Linked DNA regions of Homo sapiens: region 1 is linked to region 2. The links come from fine-mapping of genetic effects on gene expression. A gene starts in region 2. The other region holds a variant in brackets. All regions are shown on one strand. Distances are from middle to middle. Region 1 holds the start of DNAJB2 (DnaJ heat shock protein family (Hsp40) member B2). Region 2 holds the start of ANKZF1 (ankyrin repeat and zinc finger peptidyl tRNA hydrolase 1).

Evidence for each region.
Region 1: its variant is fine-mapped to the expression of ANKZF1 in lung (TOPMed, PIP 0.98). The same link has a PIP of 0.9 or more in whole blood.

Annotation. Positions count from the first base shown.
Region 1 is chr2:219,270,439-219,282,152 of GRCh38, reverse strand. It overlaps DNAJB2 (DnaJ heat shock protein family (Hsp40) member B2), which reads right to left and starts at 2,787. Exons shown (of 9, transcript NM_006736.6): 1 at 2,635-2,787; 2 at 2,255-2,355; 3 at 1,466-1,575; 4 at 382-435; 5 at 92-214. The coding sequence starts at 2,319. TUBA4B (tubulin alpha 4b) reads right to left here. Exons shown (of 4, transcript NM_001355221.1): 4 at 9,956-10,987. The coding sequence ends at 10,454. RefSeq lists silencers at 2,463-2,942, 4,184-4,386 and an enhancer at 3,963-4,667. The variant G/A (reference allele first, on the strand shown) is at 3,992.
Region 2 is chr2:219,223,098-219,234,518 of GRCh38, reverse strand. It overlaps ANKZF1 (ankyrin repeat and zinc finger peptidyl tRNA hydrolase 1), which reads right to left and starts at 4,713. Exons shown (of 14, transcript NM_018089.3): 1 at 4,619-4,713; 2 at 4,114-4,291; 3 at 2,479-2,591; 4 at 2,157-2,259; 5 at 1,836-2,029; 6 at 1,328-1,440; 7 at 1,086-1,233; 8 at 576-804; 9 at 231-386. The coding sequence starts at 4,261. It overlaps ATG9A (autophagy related 9A), which reads left to right and starts at 4,883. Exons shown (of 16, transcript NM_001077198.3): 1 at 4,883-4,984; 2 at 6,034-6,085; 3 at 6,466-6,597; 4 at 6,706-6,749; 5 at 7,586-7,650; 6 at 8,947-9,108; 7 at 9,307-9,448; 8 at 9,665-10,413; 9 at 10,497-10,650; 10 at 10,755-10,934. The coding sequence starts at 6,495. RefSeq lists enhancers at 4,519-4,628, 4,299-4,846, 4,847-5,394, 5,395-5,943 and silencers at 4,779-4,908, 5,119-5,168.

The sequences.
Region 1 (11,714 bases), 47 kb before region 2:
TCAGCCTTCCACCTCAGGGCCTCCCAGCTGATGGAAGGACAGGCCTGGAGGGGGAAGTTGAGCCATTCAGAGGCTTCCAGAGTCCACTCACCAAAGAGCTCTGCAAAAGGGTCTCCACTCCCAAAGAATTCCCGGAAGACCTCCTCGGGGCTGCGGAAGGTGAAGGTGAAGCCAGGCCCACCACTGCCAGCTTCTGCCCGAGATGGGCCAGTTCCTGGAAAGGCAGGATGAGGAGAGAGCTTAGGGCATGCATCCTGCCCTGAGCGGGGGACCTCACCTAAGGCACAGCCAGGAGCCTGAGAGAGCCTCCATTGCAAGAATCTGCCCTGCCCCTCTCCTCCCTGCCCCACCTCCATTCCTGGGCCTCACCACTCCACCTACCTGTCCCTGTCAGCCCTTCCCGGCCATAGCGGTCGTAAATCTCCCGCTTGTGCTCTGCAAAAAGAGACCAGATCATTTCACCCTCCCTCTGGGATGGGCTCCCCTCCCAGGCTAGGACGTTCAAAGGATTGTCCAGAGACTGACACTCTGACACTTGGCGGGGGAAAGCAGGCACAGCAGGGGACCCAGGGGACACGGGCTATAGGTTTAGGCAGCAACTCAGCCTTTCACACAGCTGGCCTCTTCTCATCTGGAAAATGGCTGTCATCACAACACCTACCGCACAGGGTTGTTGCACAGATCAAATGAGACCATCCACGTAAACTGCCTACCAGTGCCTGACACATAGAAAGTGTTCAATAAATGTTAGCTAATGATTACTACATTATTATTCACCAGGGCTTAGCCTAAATGTCACCTTCTCGGAGAGGCCTTCTACAACCACCAGAACTAAAGCAAGTGCACATTATTCCCTAGCACTCCACCTGCCCTGTTTCTTCCCTCGGAATACTCTTCACAAGCTGTAACTGTGTCTGTGTGTGTGCCTGGTAGGTGTTGGTCTTCCCTGCCCCTCTGGGCAAAGACAGTGCCTGCTTGTCCTCCAGTTTCCCCAGCACCCAGCGAGTGCCGGACACTGTCACCATTCACTGAATTACTTTTCGAATGAATCAATAAAAAGGCAGACCTGGATTCATATTCCAGCTCTGCGTGGCCTTGAGCAAGTTACTTCACCTCTCTCAGCCTCAGTTTCCTTGCCTGTAAAATAGGGGTGATAGAACCTGCCTCATAGGACGGCTGTGAGAACTCATGGAGATGACACCCACCAATGCCTGGCACGCAGGAGGCTCAGCTCACATGAGTTACCTGCCCTGCTTCCTTCCCCTTTCAGGTCTCATGCCAGCCACTCCTACCAGACTCTGGGGAGCAGACACTGAGCTGTCCCTGTGGGAGGGGGGAGCTTAAATGTCAGGCTGGAAAAAGGCACAGAGGAAACTAGGTGGCAGAGACATTGCTTTAAGAAAATGTGAGCTGGGGCATGAAGTAGGGGGTGATGTGCTGGGTCCTGCCTGACCCCGGCCCTTACTGTCAGACAGCACTTCATATGCCTCGGCCACCTCCTTAAATTTCTTCTCAGCAAACTCTTTATTATCTGGGTTTTTGTCTGGGTGCCACTGGAGAGCCTTGCGCCGATACCTGCAGAAAGTGGGTGCAGAGGAGAGAGTCGGGGGACAAATGCAGGCACTTCCCACCCAGGAACCGAACGACCTGTTTTCCCATTAGCCTATCACTGTCCTTTCACCCCCGGGTCCCAGTCCACCCCAGCTGCTAGGGCTGCCGCTGCTGTGATATTTTCATCAAGTTCCACCCTCTCTCCTCCGCCACCAGTGCTGGGACCACATGTACAAGCGGATACAATGCCAGGGTCCCTAGCCCCTCCCTAGGGCTCACTGGACTGGGGCTGCAAAGGTTGGGGCACATGTGGCCTCGAAGAGTACAGGGACACCGGCCCCTCCTCCTCATAGAGCCTCTTTGCACTGCATCTTTGCACTGCAGCCTGAGAATGCCCAAATCTAGGGGGAAGGGGGAGGGGAGGGGAAAGGAGGAGGAGGAGGAGGAGGAGGGGAAGATCAACTGGAGAACAACCCATAACACAGTGCAGCTCCCAGAGGAACTAACTACTTCACTCTCTGGACGTTCTCCTTGTACTCTACCAGGGGTCTCTTTCCTCCCTGCAGGTGTCACTCGGAAGAAGCACCCCAGTGCTTTCTAACGACCTGGTTCCCTCAGACACCTACAGGTGTCACTCTGAAGTGCCCCATGGTGGTGGCGGGTGGAGGGTGAGAGGTCTTCTGTTGCATACGGAGGCACTTACGCCTTCTTGATGTCATCAGCGGACGCACTTCGCGGCACGTCTAGGATCTCGTAGTAGGATGCCATGGCAACTGGTCAGTCGTCAGGCGGGCCTCCTTGGGGCTGCAGAAGAGAAGGAGTCAGGCGGAAAGAACCAAGAGCCCCACCCTGTGGCTGCAGCAGTCCCCCTCCCCGGGTGGCGGAAGGCGCTCCCAGTTGGAAGCGGAGCACACCGGGCTCTGCTTGCGGCCGGTGACTAGGCTCCCTCCGGCAGCCTTATCTGCCCCCGCAGGCCGGGGCCAAGAGCTATCTCGACGCCCAGGCCCAGGAGCCCTATCGGGGCCCCCCAACTCCAGCAGTCCGATCCAGGGCCCCCAGCCTGACCCGGGCCCCCGGCCGCACCTCCTCCGCCAGGAGTCCCGGCCTCCTGCGGCGCCCCGCCCCTGCCCCCCGCCGGGAACCGTCTGGCACCCGCAGCCCGGCTCGCGGCTGCTGCGTAGGACGCGCCCGGCCCAGCTGTGCGCGCAGGCATGCGTCAGCGGTGCGGAAACTACTAGAGACGGGGAGAAGGCCGGCTCCGCCTGTCCCCTGGGGGGGTGGGGGCCTGCAGGGGCTGCCGGGAGAAGAGGGCGGAGCCGGCTATTTTGGGCACACACCAGGACGACGTCAGCCCCAGCTGGGACCTGGGAGACTGCGGCCCCGCCTCCATCCAAGCGAGAAGCGCTCGCACGGAGGCTGGGGCAGCCCACAAACAAGCCGCTCGGCCCCCAGGTTCCTCTGTCACTTTCTTATAAACATGAGCGATGATCCATGCTTACTCACCCACCTCGAGGACTCAGACTCTTCCCTCCCTCCCCCCACCACGGTTCTAACTCCTCCCCCTTCTTCAGCTCCCAGCTCCAGCCCCAGGTCCCCCAGCAGGCTGCCCTGGCTTTCCTGAGTAGGTCAGAACTGCCTTTTACAGCATCTCGTGGCATTTCCTTCATCAGGCTTGTTAGAGCCACAAATTAGCATTTATTGGTTTGATTATTTTTTATTACCATTCACCTCCCCCACTAGAATGTCGATTTCACAGGACAGGAATTGTGTGTTTTTTCTCACTGGTCTATTAGAGCAGTCGTAGGGGTTCAAAACTACCCGTGGGATGAATAAATAATGAACACCTGCAAACCTCTTGTTGACAGTTTTGACACATTTGGGGGAGGTGAGGTAAAGGGGGCCGTACAACGGAATTCCCCAGGTTCAAGTCTTCCCAAACTGATCCTGAGTAGGCCTATTCCACTTCAAAATGCTCCCTGGGTTCAGGCCTCATTGGAGAGTTAGGAAACCTTCCAGAACTGGCTCCTGCTTGATCCCATCCAGGCCAATCCAAAGGCGTTAGCTGAGCATTTTTCTGCATTCAAGATGCTGCCAGGCCGTATAAAGAAGAATGTGGCCCAAGCCCTGCCTTTGCAGAGCTTGAACTTGATAAGATACCAGCCCATCAGTGTAGCCCGCTGGGAAACCCGAGGCTTTGGAAACAGAGTACAACCTGGCATTACTGTGAGACTTGGGAAAATCTCTGAGCACTCTTTTTTTCTCACTAAATATAGGTAGTGCCTAGGGTTGTTTGAAAGTCAAATGAGACATGGTACGAATTAGGTGTTACTGCGGTCCTGCTGGCATCGTGATTGGCTCAAGCAATAATGGTTATGTGAGTCCAGAAAAGTGCTTTAGGCTGGGGGACCCAGGAATACTTCGCCAACGAGAAGGGTTTGAG[G/A]CGGACGTGAGAGAAGAAGGTGGTGTGAGTGTCCTGGTTTCCTGGCTGCCCACCATCAGAACCTCCTGCCTACATTTGGGGAATTCCCATCGCAAGGGCCCTAATGGAAAGCAGGCCACCATTTGCCACAAAGCCCCAATGCTTGCTCTCCCTGACTCGGCTCTGGGGTTGCAGGCAGAAGACATGAGCTCCGCCAATCGGATGCTCCAACTGGGACTTTGAATCTGGAGCAAGTCACGGAATAGCAAGGCTGGTTTAGGAATTCATTTCTGCGGCGGCGGTGGAGGCGATGGGGCCAACAGCGGCCTCTAGTGTCTGGAGGAGGAAGTGTCAGCGCTACTGCCGCAGGTGAGGGACGAGAGTAGGAGGATCACTGCGGAGGGTGGAGGGGACAGGAGTCTCCTACACAGGCTGTCCTGTGCCCAACCTTGACTGTGGTACTGGCTGCCCAGCTTCCCTAGGTGCCTGTCTGATTGCTGACCCTTGTTTGCTGGCCCTTGCATTGATTCTGTGTGCTATCCGATATCTCTATAATTGTTGGGGGCAGGGGACTTGAAACAATTTGCCAGTTAGCTTCTGCTGTTTATAAGAGTCCTGACTGACACAAAGACTAAGGGTTAGACTTGGTATAAGAGGAAGGAGTGGTTGGGTTAAGTCACTCCAAATTTTCCAGATCTCTGCCTTTTTCTTCTTACTCTGCTGTGCCAACAGACATTTGTCTAGCACCTACCGTGTATGTCTTGTTATATTAAGAAAAAGAATATAAAAAAGTTTAAATTCCAATCTCTGTGCTCAAGGGGATAGGACATAGACAAATGACAACTGAGGGAAATTATATGGAGCACATCTAGCAGACAAAGGTTTAATTTCCTTTGTCCACAAAGAAATGCCAACTAATGAAAGACAATGACATTTTTAAATGGACAAAGGGACAGGCAGCTCACAGAAGAGGAAATACTGGCTTTTAAACAAATGAAAAGATGCTCAATCTCATTCACAAAAAAACTGTAAACTAAAGCTACGACAGGCCAGGCATGGTGGCTCATGCCTGTAATCCCAGCACTTTGGGAGGCCAAGGCGGGTAGATCACCTGAGGTCAGGAGTTTCAGATCAGCCTGGCCAATATGGTGAAACCCTGTCTCTACCAAAAATACAAAAAGTAGCCAGGCGTGGTGGCACATGCCTGTAATCCCAGCTACTCGGCAGGCTGAGACGGGAAAATCACTTGAACCCGGGAGGCGGAGGTTGCAGTGAGCCAAGATCGTGCCATTGCACTCCAGCCTGGGCAACAAGAGTGAAACTCCATCTCAAATAATAATAATTTTTAAAAGAATAATAATAATAAAGCTACAACAAAATACTTTGGGGTTTTGTTTTTTGAGATGGAGTCTTGCTCTGTCATCCAGGCTCCAGTGCAGTGGCACTATCTTGGCTCACTGCAACCTCCCAGGTTCAAGCAATTCCCCTGCCTCAGCCTCCCAAGTAGCTGGGATTACAGGCATGTGCCACCACCCCTGGCTAATTTTTGTATTTTTTGTAGAGATGGGGTTTCACCATGTTGGCCAGACTGGTCTCAAACTCCTGGCCTCAGATGATCCTCCTGCCTCAGCCTCCCAAAGTGCTGGGACTATAGGCCAGAGCCACTGCACCCGGGCACATGGCCCTAACAAAATACTTTGTTTCACTTATTGGATGATTGACAAAGACAAAAAAAAGAAAAAAGTTGAATACATTGTATGGGCAAGGCTGAGGGCACAGGCATTCTTATAGATTGGTAGTGGGAGGGTGGGTAATTTGATGTGACTTTTTTTTTTTTTTTTTTTTTGAGGCAGAGTTTCACTCTTATTGCCCAGGCTGGAGTGCAATGGTGCAATCTTGGCTCACGGCAACCTCTGCCTCCCGGGTTCAAGCAGTTCTCCTGCCTCAGCCTCCCAAGTAGCTGGGATTGCAGGCGTGAGCCGCCGTGCCCGGCCTGGTGTGACTTTTAAAGAGAGCAAGATTTAAAATGCATAATCTTTGACCCAGAAATCTCAATTCTAAGAATGTATGGTCATATATATGTGCAAAAAAAATACATACAAGGGTTGCAGCATTCTTTTTAATAGCAAAAGATTGGAAACAATCTAAATACCCGTTAATAGCAGACTGGTAAAACAAGTGTTGGTATGCTATACGATGGAATATTATATTGTGACCAAATAGAATGAGGCATAGCTAACAGTATTCATATGGACCATCTTCCAGATTTATTATTAACTGAAAAAACAAGGTGTAGAACAAAGTGTATACTAAATGTGCATACAAGCATGGTAGTACAGATGGAGCATCCCTACTCCAAAAACCCAAAATGTGAAATGTTCAAAAATTCAAAACTTTTTGAGTACCTGACATGATGCCACAAGTGGAAAATTCCATACCTGACCTTATATACACAAACTGTTTCATGCACAAAATTATTTAAAACATAGGCTGGGCTCAATGGCTCAGGCCTATAATCCCAGCACTTTGGGAGGCCGAGGCGGGAGGATCACCTGAAGTCTGGAGGATCACCTGAGGTCAGGAGTTTGAGACCAGCCTGGCCAACATGGTGAAACCCTGTCTCTACTAAAAATACAAAAATTAGCTGGCATGGTGGTAGGCACGTGTAATCCCAGCTACCTGGGAGGCTGAGGCAGGAGAATCACTTGAACTTGGAAGGTGGAGGTGCAGTAAGCCAAGATCACGCTATTGCACTCCAGCCTGGGCAACAATAGTGAAACTCCATCTCAAAAAACAAAACAAAACAAAACAAAACAAAAAAATTATTTAAAACATTATACAACATTCCCTTCATGCAATGTGTATCAGGTGTATATGAAACATAAGTAAATTTCGTATTTAGACTTGGGTTTCAGCCCCAAGATATTTCATTATGTATATGCGAATATTTCAAAATCTGAAAAAATCTGAAATCCTAAACACTTCTGTTCCCAAGCATTTCCGATAAGGGATATTCAACCTATATATATGTAGACATCTCTGGAAGGAAACACTAACAAAAACATTAACAGTGGTGGCTGCCAAGAGGGGAACAAAATGAAAGAGACTTATTTTTCTTGTTCCTAAATCTCTCTGATACTTTTTGAATTCTGAAGCATATGCACCTAATAACTGTTCAAATTCATACTAATTGTTAAAAATTGAGTTGGGGAAATAAGACATTGACAAGAAGCCAAGTGATATCATACAAGGCAGCCCACACCAAGTGCCAAATGAAAAATAGAGACCGAGGTAGGTGCTGAAAGAATTCAGAAGAGGGAGAGCTCCCTGGGGCTGGGTAGGTTCTGGATGGCTGTGACCTAAGCTGGAAGGAATGGCAACATTGAGACAAGCAGGGGGAGGTGGCGTTCCAGAAGGAGAGAATGGTGACAACACAGCTTTGAAGCCAGGCGTGTTCCTGACACATCAGAGCCCAGGGAATAAATTTGTTGGGTAGAATCTGAGCTTGGAAACCTGTCTCTTTTGTCTGCCTGAAGGAGGCAATTGTACTTTGGCTCAGAATCATCAGGGATGAAAGCATTTCCCCTGCACTGAGGGAGTCCCCAGGAGCCAGGCTGGGTGGTGCTCCTAGCTGCCTCAGGAGGTCTGGGTTGCCACCTCTCCACAGCCATACCCAGTCCAACCCAGGCCTGCCAGGGCCTGCCAGCAGAGTATTACTAGCAGGAAGACCTCAGGGAGATGGCTATATAGCTGCCCAGGGTGGGCTGGCTGGTTCAGCAGACAGGAAGGGAGACGAGCTGCCTCTCTCGATCCCTAGCCGTCTTGGCAGGTGAAGAGCTCACCTCCCTCCCCACCCCCAATCCTGGCCTCTCCCAGGCCCTCACCACCTCCTAGGAGATGTTGGGGGATGTTTTCCAAAGGGCACTGATAGCCCCAAAATCTGGCCCCAAAGAAGCCTCTACCCCCATTCAGACCCAGAAGCTGGGACTCTCCCCTCTACATCGATGCCCTCCTTCCCAGAGCCTGGGCAGGGCATTGTGAAGCGTCACCCACTCCCTGCCCCTGAGGCACCTGAGTCACTGTCTGGGCACTCGGGACCTGGCAGGCTGAGAAGAGGTGGTGTCTGGAGGGCTGCCTGGAACCACTGTGAGCAGGAAGTGAGGGCACCTAAGAAAAAGGTGGGGGAGCAACATATGATTTGGTGCAGGCTAACCTGGGTTTGAATCCCAACTCCTCCATTTACCACCTTGGGCGAGTCTTTGAGTCTCAGTCTCCACATCTATAAAATAGGTGTTCATTGAACAAGTTCATCCAACAAGTGTTAATCATCTAATATGCCGGGCAACACTGGGGTGTTGAGAGTAGAACAATGAAAAACAGTCCAAGGCCTGTCTGAGAGCTTCTGTTCCAGTGGGTGTAATAACTGTATTAACCTCAGAATTAAACAAGATCTTATGGATACAGGACCTAGCACATAGTAGATGCTCACTAAATGATGGCTATTTCTTGGGGTGTGAAGGGCTCCCAGAGTAACACCTTTTCCCTTCCCAAGTTTGAAACCAGTTGATGGAAAGACGCATAAGTCAAATATATGGAGATTTAAAAGTCAGCCCTTTTAGCAAGGCATGGTGGCTCATGCTTGTAATCTCAACACTTTGGGAGGCCAAGGTGGGAGAATTACTTGAGCCCAGGAGTTCGAGACCAGCCAGGGCAACATGGTGAGATCCTGTCCTTACAAAAATATTATTGTATTGTATTTTTTTATTTATTTATGTTTATTTTTTTGAGATGGAGTCTGGCTCTGTCACCTAGGCTGGAGTACAGTGGCACTATCTCAGCTCACTGCAAATTCTGCCTCCTGGTCTCAAGCGATTCTCCTGCCTCACTCAGTCTCAGGATTTAAAATTTGCCATTTGTTTGGAAGTGGGGGTGGGAAGCTGTGTGTGCATGATGCCACAGGACTGTTAAAAGGTCAACTGTCTTTATCAAAAAGTGGTGAGTGTCAGGGCTGGGCATGGTAACTCACCCCTGTAATCCCAGCACTTTGGGAGGCTGAGGCTGGTGGATCACCCAAGGTCAGGAGTTGGAGACCAGCCTGACCAACATGGTGAAACCCTGTCTCGACTAAAAACATAAAATTAGCCAGGCCTGGTGGTGCATGCCTGTAATCTCAGCTACTTGGGAGGCTGAGGCAGGAGAATAGCTTGAACCCAGGAGGCGGGGGTTGCAGTGAGCCGAGATCGTGCCATTGCACTCCAGCCTGGACAACAAGAGCAAAACTCCATCAAAAAAAAAAAAAAAAAAGTGGTGAGTGTTGACAGAGATTACTGGGAGGTAAGCCTCCTACCCTTACAAGCCATTCTCCCTGTGTGGCAGCCACTGCACCACTCTTCTGCCTCAACCAACTCCAGTGTCAGGGCTCTCTATTACCCCAACCTCCTGCCTGGAGAAGACAAGCCTCCAGATCGCAGGATGGGCTAGTGGGCACTAGATTACTTTAAGGATCACTTCGGATCCTCCTGGCCTCACCGGGCTCTTGTTGCAGCTCCATGTGGGGTTCCACTGACTTCACATATGTGCAACTTAATAGCACCTCCTCCTCGCCCAGGGTTTCCTGATGACTCTACAGCCCAAGTGTGTGCAATCCACCAGTGCAGGGGAATTAATGCTTGATGGGGCAAAAGTTTAACTAGTGGAAGAATAGAGCCAGTGCATAAACCCCACCCCCAGCCCTCACCTGCCCACTCACCCAAGGATGGTTCTGAGATGCCATTTATTCAGCTGCATTTTCTCTAGGGTGAATTTTTCCTCCTTCTGTGCCTTACTTCCCTTGGCCCCCATTCTATTTGCTGTAATTGCACTCTATAATGAAATCTAAAATCAGATCTGCTTTCTGGGGAATAGAGGCTAAGACACCAGCGTTCCTATCTCTCATGGAGAAGAAGCCCTCCCCCCATGGTTTTCCCCCAGAGAAAAAGACATTCGTGAGACAATAAGGCCACAGCACTTTATGTAGGACAGACACACAGTATTCCCCTAGTATTCATCCCCCCTATCTTTTCTTCCCCCCACTCCACACTATCCATGCCCACCTCCTTGTAATCCTTCTCCAGGGCAGTCATATCCTCATGGGCCTTGGAGAACTCACCCTCCTCCATGCCCTCACCCACATATCAGTGCCCAAACGCCCTCTTGGCATACATCAGGTCAAACTTGTGGTCCAGGCGGGCCCAGGCCATAGTGATGGCTGTCATGTTGCTCAGCATGCACATGGCACGTTGCACTTTACCAGGTCACTCCCAGGCACCACAGTGGGAGGCTGGTGATTGATATCAACCTTAAAGCCTGTGGGGCACCAGTCCACAAACTGAATGCTGCACTTGGTCTTGATGGCAGCAATGGCAGCGTTGACATCCTTGGGCACCACATCTCCATGGTATAGCAGGCAGCAGGCCATGTACTTGCCGTGCCGGGGATCACACTTCACCATCTGGTTGGCAGGCTCAAAGCAGGCATTGGTAATCTCTGCCACCAACAGCTGCTCGTGGTATACCTTTTCTGCAGAGATGACTGGTGCATAGGTGGCCAGGGGGAAGTGGATGTGAGGTAGGACACCAGGTTGGTCTGGAACTCTGTCAGGTCCACATTGAGGGCCCCGTCAAAGCGCAGAGAAGCTGTGATGGAGGAGACAATTTGGCTAATGAGGCGATTGAGGTTGGTGTAGGTTGGGCGCTCGATGTCTAGGTTGCAGTGGCAGATGTCATAGATTGCTTTGTTGTCCACCATGAAGGCACAGTCTGAGTGCTCCAGGGTGGTGTGGGTGGTCAGGATAGAGTTGTAGGGCTGGACCATGGCTGTAGACACCTGGGGGGCTGGGTAGATGGAGAATCCCAGCTTGGATTTCTTGCCATAGTTAACAGAAAGCCACTCCATCAGGAATGAGGTGACGTCAGAGCCAGTGCCCCGACCAAGGCTGTGGAACACCAGGAAGCCCTGAAGTCCTGTGCACTGGTCAGCCTAGACAGGGAAGGGGAGGGGAAATGTGGGGCATGGAGCACAGCTGATGGACAGGAAAGAACCAACTTGTGCTGTTTTAAATTCCCAAAAGTTTCATGAACTCCTTGGAAGACTTTTCCAAGAGCACAAAAGAGATCCTCATAGAGTGGGTCCAGGGCCCACCCTTTCTCCTCCCTGTCCCTCTTCCTCTGAAATCTCCTGAGGCCCTTAACACAGAGCTCTGTTGTATGCTGGAAAAGAGGGGTATGATGGTGGGTGGAGTTGGCTGTCTAGGCTGACCAGTGCACAGGACTCCAGGGCTCCCTCATCTTGTCGTCATAACTTGCCAACTCCACCCACCATCACACCCATGCCCCGCTGATTTAACTTTGGATGTTTCTAGAGGGTTTCTCTACTAAGAACAACAATCCAGGAACCTCATCCCCATCCTTCGTAGAAGCCAAAGCCAATCACAGAGGCTTTGGGCTGACATTCTTTGAATCCCTGCCTTTCACAGGGACTTCTGCCCACATCCTTGTAACACAAGGTGGTATTCTGGGAACGCTTATGGAACCCCACAGCTTGGCCAGGCAGCCCATCAACATGTTTGCCTTAATGGACACCCTGCCTAGCATCAGGCCAGCCACTTCGGAGATACAGGGGACACCAGCTCCAGGCTGGAACCTACAGTTGGCCCCCCGATCAGAGTGCAGGGCCTCTCCTCATTGGTCCTGATCCTGTGTGTTTC
Region 2 (11,421 bases):
CATCCACGCATCTGCTCCACACAAAGATTTTCTTAGCTCTGGGGAAACATCCATAACAAAAGAGATAATAGATTTGGAAAGGTCACTAAACATGTCTCAGTAATTGCTAAGATAGACACTGTGGGTGTGTGTTTAAATAAGGAAATGGGTCAGTTATGAGAGTAGGGAATTTGCCAGTGCATTTTTAGGACAGAAACTCAGATCTGACAGTTGCCAGATAGTAATCAAACCCTGTTTGGGAGATTCCTCATTCTGCCCCAGCGCTTCCTTTTCATCCCTGCAGATCTTTCTTATTTCTTCCTCAGTAGGCTTCTTTCTCTCCTCTCTTACTGTTTTCCAGTGTGTCTGAGGTGAGTGCAGTCTGACTGCTTCCCGAGGGTCTTCTTCTGCCATAAAAGAAAAGATCTTTCTCAACCTTAGCTGAGGAGAAGCTAGCGCAGGTTTCTCTCAATGCAGATGTAGCTGGGCTGCAGTCCAAGGCTTAGAAAATCCTCTGGATATACCAATGAGAATGGAGGCTTAGGTTGGAGAGAACAGGAAGGTCTAGGGAATTGGGATCTGGAGCAAAGGCTCACCATAGACATGCAAAGTGGTCAGCTTATGGAGCACACGCTGTAGCTCTTGGAAGGTGGGTCTGCGGGTGGCGAGGGGGATATCCCAAAGTCGGGGATCCCCCCTTTGCAGGGGTGCTCCCTTGCCTCCAAAGAACAAAGACCGGCCAGAGCGGGGAGCACGCAACAGTATTGTACCAGCCTCCTCCAGCGCCTTAGCCCAGCTTGGCCCTGCCAGCAGGTCACGAACATCCTAGAGAAGAGAGTAACTCAGTCCTGCATACCTTCACTTGCTATTTATAAATCTCCAACTAAAAAAAATGGCCCACAGAAGTGCAAGGGGTGGAAAGTAGAGGATAACACGGAGAAAGAATAGAGGACTAAGGCTCCTGGGGAATCCCTCATCTACCTTTGTCTACCTATAATGAAAATTGGAAGGATATGAGTCAAAAACCTCCCTACTTAACAGTGAGTTGAACAGAGATGCAAAAAAAGTATGGATCAGTACCACCAGATCTAAAAGGCTTAACTCACCTTATATAGTGTGGCTTCATTGTAGCGCCTCAGGTTGGCTCCAGCAGAGTGTGATGGCCCACCTCGGGCATCCCGAAGCCCCTGGGCTGTGCCCCGCTTGGCCCGAACCGTATAGCGGTGAAAAGTTTTGTGTGTCACCACTTCTCTTCTGTAGACAGCACAGACTCAGTACTGGAGACCAGCTGGTGCTCCCTGGCTAACAGGATCCACTCCATCCTTACCCCCATGCAGCACCCTCTCACCCTTGAAATATAGCACCAGCAAAGTGCCCAGCTGCAGCCATGAGCACCACGCAGTCTCTGGGACCTCTACTTTGCAGGTTCTGTAGCAGCAGTTCTGCCTCTTCTGGGGGATCCTTGATGACAGAGAAGCATCAGAAACATATCTGTTGCATTCACTGAGAGCAAGAAACTAAGGGCCAATTTTCACAAACATTATCTCATTTAATATTACCACCCTGAGGCTTGTTTCCATTTGACAAACAAGGAAATTTGAGGCTTGGCGAGGCAGTCAAGATGAAGTGGTAGAATCACAATTCAAACCTAAATTGGTTTGTTTCCAAACTTAATTCCATTACACTTAACCCTTCCACAATTCAGGCCAGTTTCAATTCAAGACTATGTTGTCAAGCGTGATACCCACAACCAACAGGAAGGAAGAGAAGCAGGGAGAAATGCACTAGGCTAAGGGAAATCTAGGCTGGGTGTACAAAAGGCTGGGGTTAGCCATGCAACCTGTACTGTCACTTGCCTGATGAGGGCCTAGGACACAGCGGTAGGCATAAAGAAACTGGCCCTGGGCATTCTGGAAAAGAACTCGATGAGGGTAAAAGCCTGGGGGTCGGCTCAACTTCTCAAATGTAGCCCTCTCCCGATCCAGTGTCTGCAAGTCCTCCTCACTGGCTGAGTCTGAGTCTTCTGATCCCGAGATGCTGGAAAGATCTCCTGAAGACAGACAATATGAGATACACAAGTTTGGTACCCCATTTTTGTTCTTTCCTCAAACTCTAAACTAGTGCTTTCTTATACCTCCATGTCCTACTCCTACATAGGTCCCCCTACCACTCATCACCTGTGGAGCTCTGCTTTTCAAAGTCCAGGGCAGACAGGAGAGGCTTGTCCTTGAGACGTTGCTTTAGGTTAAACCGATGCCAGTCAAGCTTATAATGTTCCCTCTAGTACAAAGACAAAGAGTGAGATAAAGGTGGAAATATGCCCCAGCCTGGCCTTGTACTGGCCAAGACCAGTTATAGTATTCTAGGAAGTACAACCAGGTAACACCAACTGCCTCAGTCAAAGCATGGACCTTTATTAAGACAAATCAAATGTCTACCTCTCCCCACCCACCATTACACTTTTGCTTCTAACATCTAGCTCTGCACCTGACCTATTACCTGTTCTTGGTGGTTCTGGAAGGTCTGGTCACAAGTTGAACAAAATAACTTCTCTGAAATATCCATAGGACCCTGGAGTAGCTTTCTTTCTGGGCTTTCTCTCTCCCCTGAGCCTAAATAAGGGAAGAGGAATTGGACATAGAAAGGGAGCCCAAATCCACAGTGACAAGAATTATATTCAGAGTGTGATATACAAAGCAGAGGAGGATACAAAAGAGATGGCATGATACTGCCTTCAAGGAATTTACACTCTAATAGTCATGAAATAAACAGTACAGCAATCACTTAATGCAATAAACATGCTTCTGAAAACATGTACGTAAAATGAATGTAAATAAAATAAAATTGGCCAGGTGCAGCGGCTCACGCTTGTAATCCCAGCACTTTGGGAGGCCAAGGCAGACGGATCATGAAGTCAGGAGATCAAGACCATCCTGGCTAACACGGTGAAACCCCGTCTCTACTAAAAATACAAAAAATTAACCGGGTGTGGTGGCGGATGCCTGTAGTCCCAGCTACTTGGGAGGCTGAGGCAGGAGAACGGCATGAACCGGGGAGGCGGAGCTTGCAGTGAGCCGAGATCACACCACTGCACTCCAGCCTGGGCAACAGAACGAGACTCTGTCTCAAAAAAGATGAAGAAAAATAAAATAAATAAAACGAATGTAAATAAAAACTGGCCCTGGGCATTCTGGAAAAGAATCCGATGAGGGTAAAAGCCTTGGGGTCGGTTAAACTTCTCCAACGTAGCCCTCTCCCGAGATCCAGCGTCTGCAAGTCCTCCCCACTGGCTGAGTTTGAGTCTTGTCTAATTTAAATTAGCCAAACAGATTGTTTAGGTGAATCCTAAAGAAAATAATTTCTGTTCAGTTTAAAATTATTTTTCACTGCACAAAAACTACTTCCCAAATGCTTTTTAAAGTTTACATTTCCAATTAGTGTACAGTTTGTCTAAGGAGAGGTGCAAGAAAAGATGTAGCCAAACTAAAGTTACACAAAACAGGACCGACACGGTGGCTCATGCCTGTAATCTCAGCACTTTGGGAGGCTGACCCAGGCGGATCACTTGAGGCCAGGAGTTTGAGACCAGCCTGGCCAACATGGTGAAACCCCGTCTCTACTAAAAATACAATAATTAGCCGGGCATGGTGGTGCGGGCCTGTAGTCCCAGCTACTCGGGAGGCTGAGGCAGGAGAATCACTTGAACCCGGGAGACGGAGATTGCAGTGGGTGGAGATCGTGCCACTGCACTTTAGCCTGGGCGACAGAGCGAGACTCTCAAAAAATAAAGCTATACGAAACAAATAATAAATTGTTTCATATTCAGCAAAAAGGAATAATTTGAGTGGGGCCTGGTTAAATGTGGAATACATCTGAGAATTTTATCTCTACAAAGTTTAAAGTGTTTTTGAAGGGAATGGTGTTAACGTGAGGAGATACATGCAATGGCAAAAAGACTTGTTTGAAAACAAGGGCTGTGCTGGACATTACCCAGAGATTAAGTGAATTTAATCAAGCAGAAAGATAAATCAATTGGCCTCCTAAGCTCGGGAATACCAATAAGAATGTGTTCCCTGAACGGGCAATACGCTGTAAGGAGCCCTGTCACGTTTCACACGAAACCTTCCAGGATACCTGAACAGGAAGTACGCGGAGCCCGGGCCAGAGCCTCCCCAGGCGCGTGGCTCACCAGGCTCAGGCCCTGAAAGACCGGAGCATCCGCGCTGAGGTCAAACAGGGAGATCGACGCAGGAGCCGGGGCTGCATCTGGAGCCGGCGACATGGCTGAGCAGAAATTATTTAGCAGCAGCTCCTGGAGTAGAAAGCGTGTAAGAAACAGGGCTCCTGCAAACGAGATCCTACTGCTGCGTCTCCTGCCTGCCTGACTTGGTTTCTCCTGCACCGCAAGACTTCTCGTCTCTCATCCTGCTACCAACTGTGAGATGAATACCTTGGCCCCCGTCCACTTTCTCAAACCCCCAGTCTCAGCCCACAAAAGAATGAAATAGGCATTCGGCTCCCAAATCGAGTCCAACAGAGTTAAAAATCACTGAGCTTGCCTAGCCGAACTTTCTTCGTTACCCATGCGACCAGCAACAACTGGCCCGCGTAAACTCGCCCACGCCCTTAGAAGACGCACCAAACGTCCCGGGAGCTGAGCGGCTCGCAAGTCCTCAGGTCGATTGCCGGATTTCTGCAACACAACAATCCCCGTCACTACGGAGCAGCGAAGAGGACAACCGGCGGCGTCCGCACCTGAGCCCCGCCCCACGTAGAGCACACTATTGGGCCGCTGACTGTCCAAGACCCGCCTCGAGACTTTAGTCCCGTCCCTGAAGCCGAGAATTGGCCGTTGTGTCTCCGCCCCCCGTGCTTATTGGCCAGCCTGGCTGCGGGTGACAGTGAGTGGCAGACACCCGGCCTAGCGCCGCGGGTCGCGCCGAGCCGAGCCGAGCCGAGCGGAGCCGGCGGAGCCTCTGGAATCACCCGGGTCGCTGTTCCTGAGGTAAGACGTGAGACCGGTTATTGGAATCCCAGGCCCCGTGTCTGGCCTTGCCCAGGGGTGCCTGCGGAGCCCTAAGTGAGCTCGCGGCGGGTAACGGAGGAAGGGGCGCCGCCGGCGGGGCGGGGGCGCGCAGCCGGAATGTTTTGATTGCTGGCGCGCGCAGACGGGGGCGCGCGCGGGCGCCGGGGCCGCGCGCGAGGTTGTCCGCTGTTGGGAGCTGCCAGCCCTTGGCCTGGGGCCGGGCGACCCTGGGGCGAGGTGGACTCCGGTCCACGGTCGCCGCGGCTGGGTGTGGGGAGGCAAGCCAACCCACCCGGGCTATCAGCTGTAAGGCTGACTCGATCCCTGCAACATCCGCAGGAACCCCTGAGCCCAGGCCCAGCCGGCCGGGGCTCCACGGGCCCTGGTCCACACTGACCCTGTGAGTGGTGACTTCCCTGAGGGGCAGGGCTCTCACTAGCCCAGGGAATCCCACCGGGGCCAGGCTGGGCCAAGATCCACGGCCCCCAGGGGCTGCACGGACAGGTGAGTACCACCTCGACCATGCCTGGCTTACAGGACCTAGGGAACCCACAAATTCACCTAGGATCGGGGGTCTACACTGACCCAGTCAAGGTTTCCCATCCAGAAGGTTTGCTCACCGGCTGGATCTTTGGTGCTAGGGAAGTAAGAGAAGGGGTTGACCAGAAAGGTCCTCTTCAGGAAAGACTCTTGAGGTTTTGTGGACCCTGAGAAGTATGTCATTTCTGAGGCTAAGGTAGGGCAATGGAGAAATAGTCCAGAGGCGCCCCTGGCCTCAGGTCTGTACCCACTCATTCTCCATGGGGTCCCTAAGTTACTTCTTGAGACCCTGGAGTTGGAAGAGTGGCCCGGTTTAGCACAGCCAGAGGAAGTGCTCGTAGTCCTGGGCTGGAAGGGTGCTTCTTCCCCACTGCAGCCTTCCTGCCCCATGCTTGGCCTCCTCTTGGTGGGGTGTGGATGGCTGGGAGGGTTGGGTTCCTTTTTATCCCCACTGCCCACTCTCTGGGGCCTGACATCTTCTCCTCCAGCAGCTGCAGAGCATCGAGGGCTGGAGAGGAGCACATACTGTCCATGGAGCTGGTAGGGCCATGTGCTTTTCTCAAACATTTGTTTGTGAAGTGCTTCCAAACTGTTAGTCTCTTGGGAGACCAGGGTTCCCAGGATGGGCGGGGGAGGGACTCTTCTGTCCGTTAAATAGAAGATGAAACAGCCCCCAACAAAGGGACAGATTCTGGCTTTGGGCCAGGAAAGCAGCAGTAGACACCCAGACTGGCCAGAGTTAAGGCTCCCCCAGCCCTGAGCTTACTGCCTTTCTTGTGTCACTACTCCTCTGCCTCTGAGCCAAGGAGGCTGGTAGTGGACAAAGCCCAAGGGTACTTTCTCCTTTTGGCAGTAGGCAGGGCAGCCCATGGGCAGCAGCTGGAACTGAATCAGGGTCTCTTCTTCCTCCTTATTGGCAGGTGGTCAAGGTGGACAGGGGGCGGTGGTGATGGCGCAGTTTGACACTGAATACCAGCGCCTAGAGGCCTCCTATAGTGATTCACCCCCAGGGGAGGAGGACCTGTTGGTGCACGTCGCCGAGGGGAGCAAGTGTGAGTTCTTGGATATGACAGCCATAGGGAGAGTTGATGGAAGAACATGGAGAGAGCAAGGGGCTTGTGTTCTCCCAGGGCTCTGACATCTCTGTTCCTATCCCACAGCACCTTGGCACCATATTGAAAACCTTGACCTCTTCTTCTCTCGAATATCCTTTGTGTTTCTGAGTTGGAGCTCTGGGACCTTTAATGTCTCTCTAAGCCGGGGCTCTGGTGGGAGGTGGGGGTAGGTTTGACTCTAATACCTGGAAACGGGAATGGAGCTCATCCTGAGGCTGAAAGAGGCTGGTGAAATCATCGTTAAGTAATGATAGCCCACATTTACCAAGATCTGTGTGCCTGTGTCCACTTTGTGGTGTTAATTTGTAGAAGCCTTTCTAAGGGTGAGCCTCCTTTTTTTTTTGTTTGAGATGGAGTCTGTCTCTGTTGCTGCTAGAGTCCAGGGGCGATCTCAACACACTGCAACCTCCACCTCCTGGGTTCAAGAGATTCTCCTGCCTCAGTCTCCCACGTAGCTGGGATTACAGGCACCTGCCACGATGCCCAGCTATTTTTTGTATTTTTCATAGAGACAGGGTTTCACCATGTGGCAAGGCTGGTCTCGAACTCCTGACCTCAAGTGATCCACCTGCCTTGCCCTCCCAAAGTGTTAGGATTACAGGCGTGAGCCACCACACCCAGCCGAGCCTCCTTTTTGATGGGATGTAAATAATCGTAATAAGTAACGTCTTTTGACTCATTCTGTGTCAGCTCTGTGTTAAATGCTTTACATGCATTATCTTAGACCTAATACTCCTATGAGACAAGTGTTATTTATTCCTAATGTACCACCATGGACAGACAAAAGTTTAGACAGGTTAAGTAACTTGGTAAAGTCACACAGCTAGAAAGTCACAGAGCCAGGACTTAAGCTTGAGTGTGTTGACACCAAAGTCTGTGCTCTTACCTGCTTTCTTTACTGACTACTTTTTCTTAACAATTACACGTTTATAATCTGCACCAGAAGAATGGCTTCACATGTATGCTCATCGGGGAGATCTTTGAGCTCATGTAAGTATAAGAAGGGACAGATGATGTGGTGAAAGAATACATCTTAGTCTTTCCTCTCCTTGCACTCACACTTGGCCCAACCTGCCAGTACAACTCAGTCCTAGGCTAAAACTCCGTAAACCTTTGTAGTTCAGGGACTGGGTGTGGCACCAAAACTTACAGCTTCACCTTTCTTTTTTTTTGAGATGGAGTGAGTCTCACTCTGTCGCCCAGGCAGGAGTGCAGTGGTCTTGGCTCGGTGCAACCTCTGCCTCCCAGGTTCAAGTGATTCTCCTGCCTCAGCCTCCTTAGTAGCTGGGACTACAGGCATGTGCCACCATGCCCGGCTAATTTTTTTTGTATTTTTAGTAGAGATGGGATTTCACCAAGTTGGCCAGGCTGGTCTCGAACTCCTGACCTCGGGTTATCTGCCCGCCTCAACCTCCCGAAGTGCCGGGATTATAGGCATGAGCCACCACGCCCGGCCAAGCTTTCTTACAAGAAAAGCTTTCCAAGCCTTATCTCTTCCATGAAAAGAACCCAAGCCTTGGTTGGGCACGGCAGCTCACACCTGTAATCCCAGCACTTTAGGAGGCTCTAAAAATACAAAAATTAGCTGGGTGTGGTGGCACACGCCTGTAATCCCAGCTACTTGGGAGGCTGAGGCACAAGAATCGCTTCAACCTGGGAGGTGGAGGTTGCAGTGAGCCGAGATTGTGCCGCTGCACTCCAGCCTGGCTGACAGAGTGAGACTCTCTCAAAAAAAAAAAGAATGCAGGCCTTGACCTTGATCATCTCAACGCTCCAATGGAACGTACATTGTTCAGTCAGGAGGTCTCAGAGATGCCAGCCACAGAGAAAAGCCTCTGTTCTGCCTTGCCTGTTCCATGGCCTGCTCCTAGGCAGAGAGCCTCCTGGGAGAGAGAAGCCATATAGCATTGCCGAAGGGGAAGGGGTTAGGAAGCCCTCCCTCAATCAGAAAACTCCCCCAAGGGCTTTTAACTACAACCTCAAAAGGAAATCAGAGACTGGAGATCAGAGACCCACAGGATGAAACCTTCGAGAGTCCAGTAGTGGTGGCTGAGGTTACCATGAGGTGAGGAAAGTAGGCTGCAGCTGTGGCAGCTGAGGCTAAGAGCAAAGAGTGGGCCTGAGACAGTCCTGTGGGGCTGAGGAGCAGAGAGGGCCCACTGGGAGTTCTCCAGGCCCTTCCAGTTCCCAGTCTTGTTCTGCCACCTCCAGACTCTCCTCTTCCCACTGGGTTTCACTGGAGCCTCTCTGGCTCTCAGACTGCACCCCTTCTTCCCAACTCCCCAGGCAGTTCCTCTTTGTGGTTGCCTTCACTACCTTCCTGGTCAGCTGCGTGGACTATGACATCCTATTTGCCAACAAGATGGTGAACCACAGTCTTCACCCTACTGAACCCGTCAAGGTCACTCTGCCAGACGCCTTTTTGCCTGCTCAAGTCTGTAGTGCCAGGTAAGGGCTGCAAGTCAAGAGGACACCATAGCCTTGAGTTCTGCTAGCAGGTGGGTAATAGAGTGGAGTCTGAGGCAGCAACTCATACTCCAGAACTGACTCAGGCTTGGTCTAGCAAAAATACTTCAGGATAGCAGCGTCTCTGCCAAGACTCCTTCCTCGAGGGCCACCTCTCCTCCCCTTCTTTTTCCCCACCAGGATTCAGGAAAATGGCTCCCTTATCACCATCCTGGTCATTGCTGGTGTCTTCTGGATCCACCGGCTTATCAAGTTCATCTATAACATTTGCTGCTACTGGGAGATCCACTCCTTCTACCTGCACGCTCTGCGCATCCCTATGGTAAGACTGGGAAGTTGGGCAGTTAGCCCATAGTCTAAGACGTATTGGGAGGTGTGGGTGTATTCCTGGGCATCAGTTATCCTTATCTGTCATTGACAAATCAGGAACTGTCTCTTAAGCTCACAACCCCTGAATCTCACTTCTAATATAGGGCAAAGGGGTCGAGGCAACAACCCCACCTTCCGTACCTTGTCTCTTCCCCACCCCACCCCGCAGTCTGCCCTTCCGTATTGCACGTGGCAAGAAGTGCAGGCCCGGATCGTGCAGACGCAGAAGGAGCACCAGATCTGCATCCACAAACGTGAGCTGACAGAACTGGACATCTACCACCGCATCCTCCGTTTCCAGAACTACATGGTGGCACTGGTTAACAAATCCCTCCTGCCTCTGCGCTTCCGCCTGCCTGGCCTCGGGGAAGCTGTCTTCTTCACCCGTGGTCTCAAGTACAACTTTGAGCTGATCCTCTTCTGGGGACCTGGCTCTCTGTTTCTCAATGAATGGAGCCTCAAGGCCGAGTACAAACGTGGGGGGCAACGGCTAGAGCTGGCCCAGCGCCTCAGCAACCGCATCCTGTGGATTGGCATCGCTAACTTCCTGCTGTGCCCCCTCATCCTCATATGGCAAATCCTCTATGCCTTCTTCAGCTATGCTGAGGTGCTGAAGCGGGAGCCGGGGGCCCTGGGAGCACGCTGCTGGTCACTCTATGGCCGCTGCTACCTCCGCCACTTCAACGAGCTGGAGCACGAGCTGCAGTCCCGCCTCAACCGTGGCTACAAGCCCGCCTCCAAGTACATGAATTGCTTCTTGTCACCTCTTTTGACACTGCTGGCCAAGAATGGAGCCTTCTTCGCTGGCTCCATCCTGGCTGTGCTTATTGCCCTCACCATTTATGACGAAGATGTGTTGGCTGTGGAACATGTGCTGACCACCGTCACACTCCTGGGGGTCACCGTGACCGTGTGCAGGTGGGCCAGGGCCACAGGCGGGAGCAAGCCGGCTAGCATTCCTGGGAAAGGCATACATCTCACCATGATCCTGATCCCACTAGGTCCTTTATCCCGGACCAGCACATGGTGTTCTGCCCTGAGCAGCTGCTCCGCGTGATCCTCGCTCACATCCACTACATGCCTGACCACTGGCAGGGTAATGCCCACCGCTCGCAGACCCGGGACGAGTTTGCCCAGCTCTTCCAGTACAAGGCAGTGAGTGGAGTTGGAGTTAGGGCCTGCTAGAGACTGGCTGGTAGCTCGGTGGTGAGGGCTGGGCTCCCTCCTGCTCGCTTGTGACCTTGGTCCCGCCCTTTTAGGTGTTCATTTTGGAAGAGTTGCTGAGCCCCATTGTCACACCCCTCATCCTCATCTTCTGCCTGCGCCCACGGGCCCTGGAGATTATAGACTTCTTCCGAAACTTCACCGTGGAGGTCGTTGGTGTGGGAGATACCTGCTCCTTTGCTCAGATGGATGTTCGCCAGCATGGTCATCCCCAGGTACTGGGAGAGGAGGGAGCCAGGTGGCCTGGGATGATGCTGGAACATACAGTGTCTTTGGGAAAACCGCAAAAAGACACCTCTCCTGAGTCACACAAAGGCAGTCCTATACCAGGGGCACACTGCTTGGGAGCCTGGGCTGGATTTCAGCCCTAATTCGCACCCTTGGCCAAGCTCCCTTAAGAAAGGCACAACACGGCCAGGCGCGGTGGCTCACGTCTGTAATCCCAGCACTTTGGGAGGCCAAGGCGGGTGGATCACGAGGTCAGGAGATCGAGACCATCCTGGCTAACACGGTGAAACCCCTTCTCTACTAAAAATACAAAAAAATTAGCCAGGCGTGGTAGCGGGCGCCTGTAGTCCCAGCTACTCGGGAGGCTGAGGCAGGAGAATGGCGTGAACCTGGGAGGCGGAGCTTGCAGTGAGCCGAGATCACGCCACTGCAATCCAGCCTGGGCGACAGAGCGAGACTCCATCTCAAAAAAAA